Linked DNA regions of Homo sapiens: region 1 is linked to region 2. The links come from fine-mapping of genetic effects on gene expression. Tissue or cell type: whole blood. Region 2 holds a variant in brackets; the other region holds the start of a gene. All regions are shown on one strand. Distances are from middle to middle.

What was found. PIP is the estimated chance that this variant, and not a neighbour inherited with it, causes the effect.
Region 1: it holds the start of DPY19L3, and the variant in region 2 is fine-mapped to the expression of DPY19L3 in whole blood (TOPMed, PIP above 0.99).

The regions. Positions count from the first base shown.
Region 1 is chr19:32,401,853-32,410,034 of GRCh38, reverse strand. It overlaps DPY19L3 (dpy-19 like C-mannosyltransferase 3), which reads right to left and starts at 4,265. Exons shown (of 19, transcript NM_001172774.2): 1 at 4,126-4,265; 2 at 1,679-1,818. The coding sequence starts at 1,781. DPY19L3-DT (DPY19L3 divergent transcript) reads left to right here and starts at 4,496. Exons shown (of 3, transcript NR_046201.1): 1 at 4,496-5,044. RefSeq lists silencers at 3,884-4,633, 4,664-4,713.
Region 2 is chr19:32,438,833-32,447,014 of GRCh38, reverse strand. It overlaps DPY19L3 (dpy-19 like C-mannosyltransferase 3), which reads right to left. Exons shown (of 19, transcript NM_001172774.2): 7 at 7,780-7,903; 8 at 7,105-7,239. Among named protein-coding and RNA genes, the nearest start is that of DPY19L3, 37 kb to the right of the region's middle. The variant T/C (reference allele first, on the strand shown) is at 3,166.

The DNA of each region.
Region 1 (8,182 bases), 37 kb after region 2:
TGCCTCTCTGGAATGCAACATGGCAGCAGTGAGTAAAAGCCACCAAAATGAGCATCCCATTTGGCCAGTAATTCCCAATCTAGGCATGTACCCTGCTGTGGTTTGACTATTCGGCCCCTCCAAATCTCATGATGAAATGTGATTCCCAATGTTGGAGGTGGGGCCTAATGGGAGGTGGTGTGGTGATGGAACCAGAGCCCTTATAAACAGGTTGGTGAGATTCTAGCAGTACTGAGTTTTCATTCTGTTAGTCCTAGGGGAGCTGGTTGGTTAAAAAAGAGCCTGACATCCTGTGTTCCCTGGAAATTGCTTCTACTCTGGTCATGTGATCTCTACACACTGGCTCCCCTAAGTCTTCTGCCACGACTGGAAGCTTCCTGAGGTCTCACTAGAGGCAGATGCTGGTGCCATGCTTCTCATACAGTCTGCAGAACCCTGAGGCAAAGAAACCTCTTTTCTTTATAAATCACCTAGCCTCAAGTATTCCTTTATAGCAACAGAAATGGACTAAGACATGCCCCAAGGAAATAAAGTTTTAAACAAACATATGGCCACAAGGAAATTGATCACAGTTCTGTCTGTATTAGCAAATGGTAAGAAAACCTTTCACTTCTACAGTGGCAGCTATAAAAATACTTTACATAGATGATATTTCAAAAATACGTTAACTGGCTTATGACATGTTCATAACATAATAAGAGAAAAATAGCAAGCTACAAAACAGCACGTGGATCCCAATTTTGCAAAACTGTATACGAATGCTTATGGGTATACATGTGCAGAATATGACATTAAGACAGCAAGACAGTGCCACTGGTGTTAGTTTCAGGATGGGAGTATATTTCTTTTTCTTTGCATTGTTTAAGGTGTTCAGAAAGTACTATTATCCAAAACGTGTTAATCACTCGCTAATGGCTGAGCCAGGTGTCATGACCTCCCATTACAGATTACTTTTGTTAAACTGTTTCCCTGAATTGCTTTACTAGCCTGGCTGGTAAGAATTAACATGGCTGTAAATAATGTAAATTCTGTCAGATATCCAAAATGGTTAATGGGTATGAAGATTTTCATGTTAACTTTTAAAATCCTGACCATGCTTTAGTTACAAAAGCTACTCAGGAAGCAAGAAGTTGGTAATTAATGCTATCTGATGCATCACTTAGCAAGTCTTTACCATTATACAAACAACTGACCAAGTTCTGATTACTTTTCCCACCAATAAAAGAAAAAAAAAAAAAAGCAAAAGAAAACTTCAGGAATTTGACTAATTATAAAGAATTTTTAAAAAATGTTGATCCACCTTTCACTACCTTAATGGAAACTCACCCAAGGTAAGGTTGCCTGGTGTAAATAGTATACACGACCAGAAAAATTAGAGAGAGACTAAAATCTGGGGTGTGGGTGGGGGGACCATTACTCTAGAGAGTCAAAGGATGAGATTGGAAGAACCGTAAGTTAATGAACAGACAGCTGACAAACACTTCTAATCAAAGCTCTTTCATCTTTTGTCAAATCATAACTGTAAAATCAATCTAATCAAATTGCAATTAGAATATCAGGGTACTACAACAAGTTTCAATTGTTAGGTCCCACCAAATTTTTATCCTATTGGAGAGTGACATTTTAATATGCAGAAATAAAAGCAACCCAAATTGCTGCTTTAGTTTAAATCACCTACCAGATGGCAATTTATTTTCCAACTTCACATTTTCTTCTTGGGCTGGAAAGTCTTCAGAAACTTCTGTGGCTCTTATTTCTCTTCTTTGCCGGATGGACATCATGATGTCAGACTTACATGCATTGTTCTCCAAATCACTCCTAGATAGCAATAAACAGGCCATCAACGTCAGTGCCTTCTCCCCAACACACCCCGTGCTCATCCATGCTGAAATGCCTTTACTTATGCCATTTTCCCTCTATTAGCATGCCCTCCCTTTTTTTTTCTTCCCCCCAAGACAGGGTCTCACTGTCACTCAGGCTGGAGTGCAGCGGCACCATCACGGCTCACTGTAGCCTCTACTTCCACAGGCTCAGGTGATCCACCTCAGCCTCCCGAGTATCTGGACTACAGGCATGTGCTACTACACCTGGCTAATTATTTTTTGTAAAGATGGGGTCTCCCTATCTTGCCCAGGCTGGTACTGAACTCCTGGCCTCATGCGATCCTCCCCGCCTTGGACTCCCAAAGTGCTAGGATTACATGAATGAGCCATTGTGCCCAGCCTGCCCTCGATCTTGCCATCTAAATCGTTGCTGGCCTTCAAAGCTACACTCAAAACACAATTCAAATATTTATTCAACTCAATCATATTTATTCATGAAGCATGTGCTCTACAGCAGGCCCTGCCAGGAGTCAGGAATACAGGTAAGCAACACAAACGAGCCACTGCTTTTCTTCCAGAACATCTTGGGACATTCCAGTTCCGGCTGATCTTCTCCCTCCCTGAGCCATAGCAGTTACCACGCAATGCGTCACGTAACTACACAGTTGTATATTATTTTCTACTTCCATAGGCGGTAGTAGGTCTTCAGTACCTCCCACAGAAGTGGCCACGTGGGAGATACTCCATAGTAAATGTGTTGACAACCGGATTTTGAAGAATTAAAATATTGTTTTGTCTCAGGTACCTGAATTTTAACACCAGTGTTCTATAAAACAATTCACACTGGCAGCTTCAGGAATACGCCTCAGTGGTGATGACTGCGGGGGTGTGCCAATCAGGGCAGCTGCTATCCCAGGGAGCGTCGGTGGGAGTAATGGGTGGGGGGGAGCAGGAGCCTGGTTTGGCAGCAGCAAGTGGGAGGCGGGGGAGTGGTGGCAGTGAGTAAGCGGGTTCCAGTCCTCCAGAACATCTTGCTTCACTCCTCTGAATAATGAACAGCCTCTTACTAATTATTTCTTAAATGTGACTAGTAGCCTGACATGATTGTTTCCACAGTTTATTAATTCCTAAGGGTAACTTGCTCTACAGAACAAACCAACTAACATTATACAATTCATGTATTCATTCATACCAAAAAAAAAAAAAAAAGCAGGAAGCCAGATTTAAGTACTGTGCTTTCAAGCACTGGAAATGGAGAATCTGGAACAGAGAGGGAGAAGAGGAGTGTTTAACAAAGTCCTACAGCCACAGATGGGCTTATCCCCCATGTGACCTCATCCTAGAGTCCTCCCTAAGTGTGAGAGGACTTTTTTAAACAATTCATATATTCTAATATGTTAAGGCAGAAAACCAACACATATTTAAGTACCAATTATGTGTCAGGCACTGCAACAGTCCCATGAACTAAGAAAAAAAGTTCCTCCATCAGATCAAAAGGAATGCCATTGTAAACAACTGAAAAGGGACCAGAAGCGATTCTTTATTAATAAGGACGACTAGCGCTAGCCGGGCGAGGCGGCTCATGTAATCCCAGCGCTTTGGGAGGTTGAGGCAGGAGGATGACTTCAGACCATGAGTTTGAGACCAGCCTGGGGAACAGAGCGAGACCCTATCTATACAATAAAATAGCCAGGCTCGGTGGTGCATGCCTGTGGTCCCAGCTACTCCAGAGGCTGAGGTGGGAGAATCGCTTGAGCCCAAGAGTTCGAGGTTGCAGTGAGCCGTGATAACGCCACTGCACTCCAGCCTGGGCGAGACAGCGAGACCCCTGTCTCTAAAAAATAAAAATAAAAAAGCCTAGCGCTCTAGTGAGCATCCCCTGGACGAGGCAGGCACCGGGTCCGCTTACCTACGCGCCACGCCCCTGCACACCTGGCGTCCCCATCAGGTAGGTCTCCAAGGACAGGGGCAGCCGGGAAGTTCAGGCACGCGCCCCAGCTCTCCCAAGACCGCGAGCGGCCGCCGGGGTCGCAGCCCAGGCCCTGCCTCGCCGCACGGCCGACGAGCAGAAGCCGCTCCGCAAACTTGGTCCTTCCGGAGCCCAGCCCGGCCCGCGTCCCGGCAGACACTCCCGCGCTCCGCCCCTCCCGACGCCCCGACGCCGCGGCCGCGCCCCCCGACTGCGCCACGCGGCGGGGAGGGGCGGCCCCAGGGGCTCGGGGCTGTAGCCGAGGGTTCCGCCGGCGCCCGCCCGCCCTCTCGGTAGACCCTCGCCCGCGCGTCCCGGCGCGCCGCCACAGACCTGCGGCCTCAGCCGTCCTCACGCGCGGCTCCGGGAGGGGAAGGAGGCCGACGGGGCTAGGCGGGAACGGGGCCGCGCCACGGGCCGCAGCGCGCCGCGGGTACAAGGAGGGCAGAACCGCCGCGGAGCTTTGTGGAAATGAGGGGCTGGGGGGCGTCAACAGCCCCGGGGAGGGGGCGCGCCGGAGAGGCCGGGCGGCTGCCCCCGCGCCCATAGGCCCCGGGAGCTGTTCGTCAACACTAGGCCCCGCCTCCTCCCGCGGTTCCCCGCCTCGTCTCGTGCTGCGCTGGCCGGAAGGAAGCGGCACACTTCCGCTTGCCTGGTCCGCATTGAGTCCGGTCTGTTCCGGAGACTCTGAGCGCGGCCGCGGAGCTGCAGTGGCGGGGAGTGGGGTGCGGATCTTGTGTTTGCGCACGCAGTCGCCGGCCACCTCAGGCCGGAGCTAGAGATACGGCTCGGGATAGGAGGGCCCGGCGGCTCTGAGGCAGGTTCGCCTCGAGCCGCACGGCCCGGAGCAGCGGCTCCGCGGTGGTCCCCGGGGCTTGAGAGGGGTGCGGGCCTGGGAGCCCCTGAGGGCCTGATTTACGGAACTCCCCCTCCTTCCTCCTTTCTGCCGTTCCCTGCTCTGTGGCGGATGCGCAGGGATCAGTAGGGACGGCAGCAGTAGGGCCACTCGGGCCTGCCCCGCTTCCCGCATTGCCCGGTTTGGCGCGCCGCCTCCGGGCCTTGGCAAAGCCCCAGCGCCCGATTGTCACTGACCAGTGCTTGGAAGTCCTTTACCGACTGCCCGTCAGCGTCCCGCGGAGAGGATTTTGCGTCTCCAAAGACGCCCCTCTTCCGAAAACAGGCTCCTCTGTGTTCTCAGTCGGGTATATTTTTCTGTCTCCAAACTAGATTGGCAGCCGTTTTTTGAGAGCAGGTACTGACTGTGCTTTATTTCTAGATACTTTTCTTAGTCACACCACGGAAAACACTAGGTGGAACCTTTTTTAAAATTATTTTTTACAGGTGAGGCTCTCAGTCTGTCGCCCAGGCTGGAGTGCAGTGGTGCTATCACGGCTCACTGCAACCTCGGCCTCCTGGGCGCAAGCGATCCTCCCGCCTCAGCCTCCGGAGTAGCTGGGACCACAGGCTCGCACTACTATGCCCAGCTAATTTTTAAATTTTTCGTAGAGATGGGGGTCTTGCTTTGTCGTCCAGGCTGGAGTGCAGTGGTGTGATCGTAGCTCACTGCAACCTTAGTCCCCTGTGCCCAAGTGACCCTGCTTCCTCAGCCTCCTGAGTAGCTGAGATTCATTTTAATTTTTATAGTGATGGGGTCTCGTTGTGTTGACCAGTCTGGTCTAAAACTCCTGAGTTCAAGCAGGCCTCCTGCCTCAGCTTCTCAAAATGTTGGGATTACAGGCTTTAGCCACTGCAGCGGGCCCATCAAACGTTGTATTTGTCAGTACATAATTTACATGTTAATTGATTTTTGTTAAAGGGATGGCCATCTGGGACCTCCACCCGTGAAAAGGCGGCTCATTGGTCTGACTCCAACACTAAATTACGCCATCCAGGAAGCCTTTCCTAGTCACCTCTGTTGGAGATCGTCCTCCTTTGTGTGTCGGTTGTTAGTAAAGAGCACACGTTCTGTGGAAAGATGTTGAGGTATCTGCTGGATGGCTTTGATAGAAACAAATGTCAGCTGTTTTTTCAGATGGCATTTGTCTTGTTTCAGCCTGGTTGTTGGTAGCTTTTCTGTCGCCTGGCTTGAGGGCAAGGACTGTATGTTTATTTTTCACGTTAAGATGCCTTTATGTGCATGTGTCTGTTTCATGAATACATAGGTGAATTGAGTTCCCCTTAAATAGGATTTCCCTCTTATTTTATAGGTTTTTTTTTTTCTCTCAAGTTGTTTCACTCTGGGGGAAATGTGACCATTGTGAAATATCATCGCTTAGTTAAAAAGAAAGTAGAATTCAGCAGTAGCTGCTTTTTTTAATACTATGAAAAGACATTCCTAAGCAAGATGAAGCTTTGAGACTTTTCCTAAGTAGGACCTACTGCTGAGAGTAAGTCTTGGGGAGAATAAGCCAATTAAGAATGAGTCTTTGGTTCTGATAAAGTAACCATGGAGGTGATGGATAATGAGTGTAGGTCCTTGCTCACACTTCTGGCCATATGAGCCCGGAGCCAGGGAGGTACTATAAAAGGAATGGGCTCCTGTAATGGACTGTGACTGCAGTGGTGGTATATAGCAAGACTTCCGGTTTGCAGTAGGTTTAGAAGCCTAAATAGTCTCCCTGGTTGTCTCTGCCAGGGCCACAAATAGTTGTGCTGTGCATCTCAAAAGTGTGGTCTGGGGATCTGCAGCGTCACTGTCACCATCACTTGGGAGGTTGTTAAGAAATGCATGTTATCAGGCCCTACCCCACGCCTACTCAATTTAGAATCTGTAGGGCTAGGGGACCACTAATCTTTAAGAAGTTGATATGGTTAGGCTTTATGTCCACACCCAAATCTCATCTTGAATTGTAATTCCCATAATCCCCACCTTTCAAGGGAGAGACCAGGTGGAGGTAATTGAATTATGGAGGCAGCTTCCCCCATGCTGTTCTCATGATAGTGAGTTCTCACAAGATGTGATGGTTTTATAAGGGGATCTTGCCTCTTCGCTCAGCACTTCTTCCTGCCTCCTTGTGAGGAAAGTGCCTTGCTTCCCCCTTTGCCTTCTGCCATGTTTGTAAGTTTTCTGAGGCTTCCCCAGCCATGCTGAACTGTGAGTCAATTAAACTTCTTTCCTTTATAAATTACCCAGTCTTGGGCATTCTTTGTAGCAGTATCCTTTATAGCAGTATGTATAGCTGTATGGACTAGTACAGAAGTTTTCCAGATAATTCTGTGCTCGGAAAAGTTTGGGAACCACAGCAGAACCTTGTTACTCAACATGTGGTCTGTGGGCTGTGCAGCATGGGCATCACCTGGGGTCTTCTGAGAAAAGCCAGGTCTCAGGTCCTACCCAAGACCTGTGTAGCCAAAATCTGCATTTTAATATGACCCCCAGGTCATTTATGTGTACATCACACTTTGAGAAGCACTGCACCAGAAATCTTTTAACACTGTTCATTACATCCATCCCATGGAAGTATCTTGTCTTGGGATCCCGAGGGTGTGAGTTCTTCCGTCTTACTGGCTTTTTCCTGTCTGATACATGATGTCCATTTTAAAAATTTTATTTATTTTAACTTTTTGAGGTAGAGTCTAACTTTGTCACCCAGGCTGGTGTGCAGTGGGGTGATTTCGGCTCACTGCAACCTCCGTCTCCCGGATTGAAACGATTCTCCTGTCTCAGCCTCCTGAGTAGCTGGCATCACGTGCTGGCCACCACGCCCGGTTAATTTTTGTATGTTTAGTAGAGACAGAGCTTCACCATGTTGGCCAGGCTGGTCTCAAACTTCTGATCTCAAGTCATCCACCTGCCTTGGCCTCCCAAAGTGCTGGGATTACAGGTGTCCTCCACTGCGCCCAGCCCAGTGTTCATTTTTCAATTGTTTGACTTAGTATAAACACTCTCCATCATTCCTGCCTTCTGTGACAACAGACTGTGCGTGTTTCCTCTGTCTACCTTTCAGGCATTCCTTTTAAGTTTCATGCAGCTACTCCTCCTCCCTCCTCCCTTCTCTTTCTCTTCTTTCTTCTTTTCTTCTTTCTTCCTCTTCCTTCTTCTTCCTCTTCCTCCTGTTCTTCCTCCTCCTCCTCTCTTCTTTCTTCTTCTCCTCCCTTCTCCCTTTTTGGAAAGAGGACTTACTGTGTCATCCAGCCTAGAGTGCAGTGGCTGAATCATGGCTCAGTGCAGCCTTGCTCTCAAAGGCTCAAGCAATCCTCCCATCTCATCTTCCAGAATAGCTAGGTTACAGGCATGCACCACCATGCCTGACTAATTTTTTAAAAATTTTTTTGTAAAGATTGGGGGTGGCAGGGGGTCTCTCTGTTGCCCAGGCTGGTCTCAAACTCCTGGGCTGCAGCGATCCTCTTGCCTCAGCCTTCCAAATTGTTGGGATTACAGGCATGAGCC
Region 2 (8,182 bases):
CAGAGATTATATTCTCTATAATCCTAATTCTTTTATGTTTGTCGTTGTTTTATGGCTCGGGAGATAGTCTGTTGGTAAGTATTCTGTGAATGCTTGAAAAGAATGAGTATTCTGCTGTTACTGGGTGGAGTTTCTATAAATGATCATTAGATTCTGTCGGTTGAAGGTGTTGTTGGGTTCTATATCTCTGATGATTTTCTGTCTGGTGTTCTATCAATTGTCCAGAGAGATGTGCTGAAGTCTCAAACTGCGATTGTGAATTTTTCTATTTCTCCTTTCAGTTCTGTCAGTTTTTGCCCCACACACGTTGCAGTACTGTTGTTTGGTGCAGGTACACTTAGGATTGCTATTTCTTCTTGGTACATTGAACGTTTTATCATTATATAATGTTCTGTTCTGTCCCTAGTAATTTTCTTTGCTCTGATATCTACTTTCTCTGATATTAACATAGCTACTCCTTTCTTTTGATTGATACTTGCATGTTGTATCTTTTTCCATCCTCTTACTTTCAATTTATCTATATTGTTGTGTTTGAAGTGTGTTTTAGACAACAGCTGGGTCATGCTTTTTAAATCCACCCTGCCATCTCTTTAATTAGTATATTTAGATCATTTACCTTTAATGTAATTATTGCTATTTTAGTCTTAAATCTGCTCTTTTATTCTTTTTTGTTTGCTTGCTTCTAATTCCTGCTTCCTTCTTCCTGCCTTCCTGTAGGTTACCTGAACATTTTTACAATTTCATTTTTATTTATCTGTACTGTTTTTTCATGTACTGCTTCGTATAGTTTTTTAAAGTGGTTATTCTGGCTATTACATTATGCATTAATAACTTATTACGGACTAGTGGTATAGACATTTTAACTGTTTGAGTGAGGCATAGAACCCTAACCTCCATTTAAGTCTCATTACCCTTCCCATTTATATTGTTAAAGTATTTCTTTTACATATAGAGAACCACATAAGACAGTGTTATAATTTTTGCTTCAGCTATCAAATATAATTTTTTTTTTTTGAGACGAAGTTTCACTCGTCTCCCAGGCTGGAGTGCAATGGCACAATCTCGGCTCACTGCAACCTCCGCCTCCTAGGTTCAAAGCAATTCTCCAGCCTCAGCCTCCTGAGTAGCTGGGATTACAGGCACCCATCATCACACCTGGCTAATTTTTGTATTTGTAGTAGAGATGGGGTTTCGCCATGTTGGCCAGGCTGGTCTCGAACTCCTAACCTCAGGTGATCCACCCACCTCGTCCTCCCAAAGTGCTGGGATTACAGGTGTGAGCCACGACGCCCAGCCTCAAACGTAATTTAGAAACTCAAGAGAATAAGAAAAGTCTGTTATATTTATTCACATTTTTACTTTTTTCATTGCCTTGTCTTCCTTTCTGATGCTCTTAAATTCCTTATCATTTCCTTTCTGTTTCAACAACTTCCTTTAGCTATTCTCTTACGGTAGGACTGCTGGCAATATTAGTTTCCTTAATTGAGAATGTTTTGATTTCCCTTTCATTCCTGAAGGACATTTTAACTAGGTATAGGAGTGTAGGTTGATGGTTTTTTTTTTTTTTTTTTTTTGAGATGAAGTCTCGCTCTGTCCCCCAGACTGGAGTGCAGTGGCGCGATCTAGACTCACTGCAAGCTCCGCCTCCCAGGTTCACGCCATTTTCCTGCCTCAGCCTACCAAGTAGCTGGGACTACAAGCGCCTGCCACCATGCCTGGCTAATTTTTTGTATTTTTAGTAGAGACAGGGTTTCACCATGTTAGCCAGGATGGTCTCTATCTCCTGACCCCATGATCCGTCTGCCTCGGCCTCCCAAAGTAATGGGATTACAGGCGTGAGCCACTGCACCCAGCCTTGACAGTTCTTTTTTTCTGCATCTGAAAATACTAGGCCACTTCCTTTTGGCCTCCATTGTTTTTTGTTTTTTTTTTTTTTTTTGAGACTGGGTCTTGCTCTGTTGCCCAGGTTAGAATGCAGTGGTGCAATTACAGTTCACTGAAGCCTCAATTTCTCCCACTTCAGCCTCCCAAGTATCTGAGACCTCAGGCACGTTGCTACCATGCCTGGCTAATCATTTTATTATTATTATTATTTATAGAGATGGGGTTGCATCATGTTGCCCAGGCTGGTCTCAAACTCCTGGGCTCAAGCAATCCACCAGCCTCAGCCTCCAAAAGTGCTGGGATTACAGGCGTGAGTCACTGTGCCCAGCCCCTCCTTGATTTTGATGAGGAATTCACTGTCATTTAAATTGGTTTTCCCCTATAGGTACAGTATTTTTCTGACTACTTTCAATTTTTTAAAATTTATCTTTAGTCTCCAAAAGTTTGATTATAATGTGTCTTAGTGTGGCTCTATTTGGATTTATCCTGTTTGATATTAGTTCAGCTTGCTGATTCTGAAGGTTTATAGCTTTTGCCAAATTTGAGGAAATTTCAACTATTTTTTCCGAAAGTATTTCTTTGCATACTTTTTTCAGCTTCAGTAAACTCTTTTCTTGTCTTCTTCTGGGATTCTGATTACCTGAATGTTAGACTTTTCATTATAGTCTCACAGGTCCTTGAGGCTCTGTTCATTTTTGTTTCATTCTATTTTTTCTTGTTGTTCAGATTAGGTAATTTCTAAATTGTTCTATCTTCAAGTTCACTGATTCTTTCCTCTGACTACTTCATTTTGCTGTTGAGTCCATCCACTGAGTTTTAAACTTCGATTACTGGAATTTTTCTGTTCTAAAATTTCCACTTGCTTCTTCTTTGTATCTTCTACTTCTTTGCTTAGAGTTTGTATTTTCATTTGTTTCAAGTGTGTTCGTAATTGCTCAATGAAGCTTTTTTTTTATGATGGCTGCCTTAAATTCCTTGTAAGATAATTCCAATTTCTGTGTATCTCAGTGTTAGCATCTATTGATTGTCTCTTTTCACTCAAGAGAGATTTTCCTAATTCTTAATATAAGAATTTTTTTTTCTTTTTTTTTTTTTTGAGACAGAGTCTTGCTCCGTTGCCCAGGCTGGAATGCAGTGGCCCCATCTTGGCTCGCTCAAGCTATTCTCCTGCCTCAGCCTCCTGAATAGCTGTGATTACAGGCACATGCCACCACAGCCAGTTAATTTTTGTATTTTTAGTAGTGACGGGGTTTCACCATGTTGCCCGGGCTGATCTCAAAC[T/C]GACTTCAAATATCTGCCTGCCTTGGCCTCCCAAAGGGCTGAGATTACAGGCATGAGCCACTGCGCTCGGCCTAAGAAGTGATTTTTAACTGTATCCTATTACATTATGGGACCCTGGATCTTATTTAAATCTGCCATGTTAGCAGGCCTCCTGTGACACCATGTGTCTTGGTCCATTTAGGCTGTTATCTAACAAAATACCGTAATCTGGGTAGCTTATAAACAACAAAAAAGTTACTTCTCATAGTTCCGGAGGCTGGCAAGTCCAAGATCAAGGAACTGGCAGATTCAGTGGCTGGTGAGGGCTTATTTCCTGGTTCACTGATGGCACTTTCTTGCTGTGTCCTCCTCACATGGTGAAAGGGGTGAAACAGCTCCCTTGTGCCTGTTTTATAATGGCACTAATCACCTTCTAAAAGGCCCTACCTACCTCCTAATACAATCACCTTGGGGATTTGGGTTTCAACATATAAATTTGGTGGGGGACCACAAAAACATTCAAACTATGCCAACGCTATGCTAATGGGGAAAGAAGGGTGCTGCCTCAGTACTTTCAGACGGAAATGGAAGTCCAAGGTGCCCACTTGCCCTCCACTGACATCTGGGGGTCAGCAGAAGGTGTACTTCCTTATTGCTGGGTGAAGGCGAAAGTTCAGGCTCTCTACAGGTCCCTGCTGACACATGCTGGCTGGGAGAAACAGAGGTGCGTCACCACTGCTCCCTACATGGCCTGCACCGACAGCATGGGGTAGGGCAGTAGAGAAAGGCTTATTACATCTGGGTGGTGGTTAGAGTCTCAACCTCCCTGTTGACCTTCTCTGACACCATCCTGATAGAGAGGGGACAGGATGTCTCATTACCACTGAGTGAGAGTTGAAGTCCAAGTTTCCCAAGTGGCCTTCACAGATGTCTCTGGGAGATGGTGAAAGTTCTGGTTCCCCACTAGACTTCTCTGACATAGCTCTGGCAGGAAGCAAGGCATGCCTAGTGACAGCTAGGTGAGGGTAGGAATCTAGGCTTCCCACTGAACTTTACTGATGGAGGTGGGAGTGGAGCTGTGGTTTTGCTTCTGTAGCATTTCGCTAGAATAAGGCAGTTAATGTTTGAAAGTTTTCTGTCTTGTTAGGCTTCCTCTCTTCTGGTCCTTTTGCTAGAGGGAGGAGGCTTTTTGTTTGAGTCCATTGTTATTCCCAGGTTTCTGACTTCTCCAGCACCCAGTCAAGGATATATGGGGCAAAAAGAAAACCCAAGAAACTCGCTGTCAAATTTTCCCTCTGGTCGCAAGGTCCCTAGGCAGTCTGCTTCTCTCTACCTCTCAAATTCCTCTTATGTTTGTTATATACATATACTGTCTAAGGTTTTTCAATGTACTTTGGGGAGGAACGGGGAGAAATGTCTCTACTCCCTCTTGTCTGGAACCATGTAGGGTACTTAACATGATCTCTTAAGCATTTATCATGAATGCGTCTGTTTCCACAATAGATTAAGAAAACTTTATTAACCTCCATATTTTAGCCTTTAATTAAGCAAAAGTATACACTTTATAATATGCTTGCTGTTCTGTTTTACTCTGTTCACATTTCTGACTGGAAACTTGAGGTTTTGCTGGTAAGAGTTTCATCATTCATGAAAAGATGACAAAATGTACTGTAGAAGGTACTGCTTCTTGTCACCACACTGAGCTCTGAATTTGTATTACCTTTTTCTATACCAATTATTCTGACTCTTTCCCATTTGACATGGTTAGAGAGAAGTGATTCTAATTTATGAAGAAACTAAGTTAAATCACTTGCCTAAGCTGAAAGAGCCAGTTATTTTCAGACCTGACAGCAGCAATTTAGTTTTATAACTCAGGATCCTTTCATTGTAATAATGTTCCTCCTTAAAGTCTGATACTTAAAACTACTTCTAATACCAACACAGTTTCAAATGTAAAAGTTGAACAAAGTTTAGAACTAAATAAAAAATCAATTAGCTATATTATTTTAAAATGTTGTGTATGTGAGCCAAAACAGTACCTTTGCTTTCTAATTTTAAAAGAGATACATGTTCAGATGGGCACAGTGGCTCACACCTATAATCCCAGCACTTTGGGAGGCCAAGGCAGGTGGATCCCTTGAGGTCAGGAGTTCAAGACCAGCCTGGGCAATATGGCAAAACCCTGTCTCTACTAAAAATACAAATATTAGCCGGGTGTGGTGGCATGCACCTGTATTCCCAGCTACTTGGGAGGCTGAGGCAGGAGAATTGCTTAAACTCAGGAGGTGGAGGTTGTAGTGAGCCAAGATCGCGCCACTGCACTCCAGCCTGGGAGACAGAGTGAGACTCCATCTCAAAGAAAAAAAAAAAAAAAAAGAGACACATGTTCATTATCAGAAAAAATCAAAAGATCTAAAGAACAAAAAGAATATGCAGAACATCAATCGTGTAGCTGACTGTTGATACTTTACTGTGTATTTTTCCAGAACCTTTACTCATTTTCTCTATGTTTCGCTTTTTCAAAAAAATATGGGGGAACTAATGGTTATATAATATTTGATTGCATAGATATGCCATCATTTATTTAAGTATACCCTATTGCTATTGGCTCAAGTCATTTCCAGTTTTTTATTTCTTTTTATCTTTTCCGCCCAGCTTTTTCTTATTACAATACAACTAAAATGAACATGGCAGATTATTTACTTAGGACAAACTTATAGGGGTAGAAATGTTGGTGAAAAGGCAAATACATTTTTAGGCTTTTGATACCTACTGTGAAACTACACTAAAGAAAGATTATAGGAGTGTATAGGTTACCAGCAGTGTAGGAGTGGTCACTGGCACACCTGCAGAAACACTAAACATTTCATATACATATATAAACTTAGTCCTATCTACTTGCTCTTGCTGCATTCCACCTTCCTATTCTGCCCCCACCCCTGACATCCCACCCAAATTCTACCCTCACTTGTGATCTAGGTGGTCCAGTTCTAGCTTCTTACTTCTGTAAACACTTCTCTGCCTAAAAATAACTTTTCTTCTTTTAGATATATCAGTATTGCTAATTAGCAGCTATCATTTGTCTGCTTGTTCTTGTTGTCTGTGATCTTTGTTTCCCAAGCTAAAAGGCAAACTGTGGCTATGACAATGAATTACACATATTGGCATTTTCTGTAGTGCCCATTCTATTACAGTGTCTCAGTAGACAGGCAATGTGTATTTCTTGGTAGACTTTTATGTTTCTTAATTCAGACTCAGTCAGTTATGGAAGCTTACTGGATCTCCTTTGATATGGAATAAATGAGCACAAATCCTTGGGCTATGCTGCTGCCTTAGATATGGAGAAAGTATTTTATTATACTTGGGAAATATTTAAGTTACTACTACTTTAGAATACTAACTATAAGCCATTTTAAAACTGTACGCAATACATAAAATCATATTTTTGCACATGAAAAAATGTGATTAAATGACAGCAGCAGACATTAGGAGACAGATACTGGTTTCTTTATTTCACATGTGACTTTCAGCCAGTCAACAGGGATTCACATCCCATATTAGTTAAATGTGACTATGAAAATTTTATAAAGTACTACAAAAAAGCTGTTATATACCTATTGATTTCTTTTTTAAAAGTGGCAGTACACAGTAAGACATTTTAAAAGAGCTATCTTATATTTTAAAATTTAAGTCATCTCTATAAATAACAATTGACCTAGGCATTTATGCCCCAAAATAAAATCCATTCCATTTTTTAACTTAAAATAAGCGAATAAAAGTTAAGATGGTCAAACTAGGCTTCATAAATTACTCAGCTTCAATTGGCCACAGCAAATTTACAGCAGATCTAAGAAACAGCTTCAATTTTATCCATAAGTACTTGCATATTTTCATCTCATTCTATGATATAAAAACACTAAATGGCCAAAATCTCAAGTGAGAAAAGAAAGCAAAGCTCACCTTCACTGCTGGCAGCATGTCCAGGGAGTCCAGTGTGAACAGCACTAATGCTTGCATCAGCATCATAAATTGATTAAATTGCCATGTCAGACTAAAGAGAAAAGTTGATATGAAAATGGCAAGAAGTGTCAGCCTCTGTAAAAAGAAAACCTTTGTATAATTTACATGTCTCTAGTAATAAAAAACCTTGCAGACAAGTTTTCTCAAGAGCAGCCAGTATCTCTATAAACCAAACAGAAAAACCATAAACTGTTGCTCTGAAAACCCTTGCATTTGTTATTTAAGCTCTAACTATCATAAAGTGACACTTTGCATATAAATATTCACATACGGTGTGTGTATTCCACACTATTATGGAGGCGATAATGCACCAAATCACATCTCAAGAGCAAGGGCTTAAAAATTCTGACAGTTTGCAGAAATTGTGTGTGGGTTTGCTGCAACTATTTAAGGGTAGATTATGTAGAGTACATTTTTAACATCAAAAATGAAAACATTTTCTTTGCAAAGTAGAAAAAAGCTCACGAAAAGAAAACTTAATTTAACTCAAGTTTAAAAATTGGTCATGGAATAAGAACTATTCACATGCATTGGGATACTAAGCACATCACATTTTTTGAAGCTTCATATATAAAATTGGGGGATTAAAATATATGAAATTTTATAAACACTTACTTCAGAAAGAGGCTGTAAGTTTGGTCTCAGGAAATATGTAATTGCTGCTATCTGAATTGCAAAGAATGGCAGCGCCCAGTTCTCCCTCAGTGGGATGGTAAACTCAACTCTTGTGGTATCTATTCTGCACAAAAGAAAACACAAATGGCCAAAGTGATAGTTTTTACAATAATTTCCTCGAAGACTTCCTCAACGAAAGATATATTACATTAAGGACAAGTATACTTAAGATTCTGGCCACTGGTTCTCAATAATTGTCCTTATCATCATCATCATCATCATCATCATCATCCCTGTAACATAAAATTGGCATAGAGAACATTTAAGTGCTCTGTCCATGGGTATGCCCTTAGCACCTAGGGTTCAAGCCCAGGTTAGCCTTACTCCTAAACTCACAAATGTA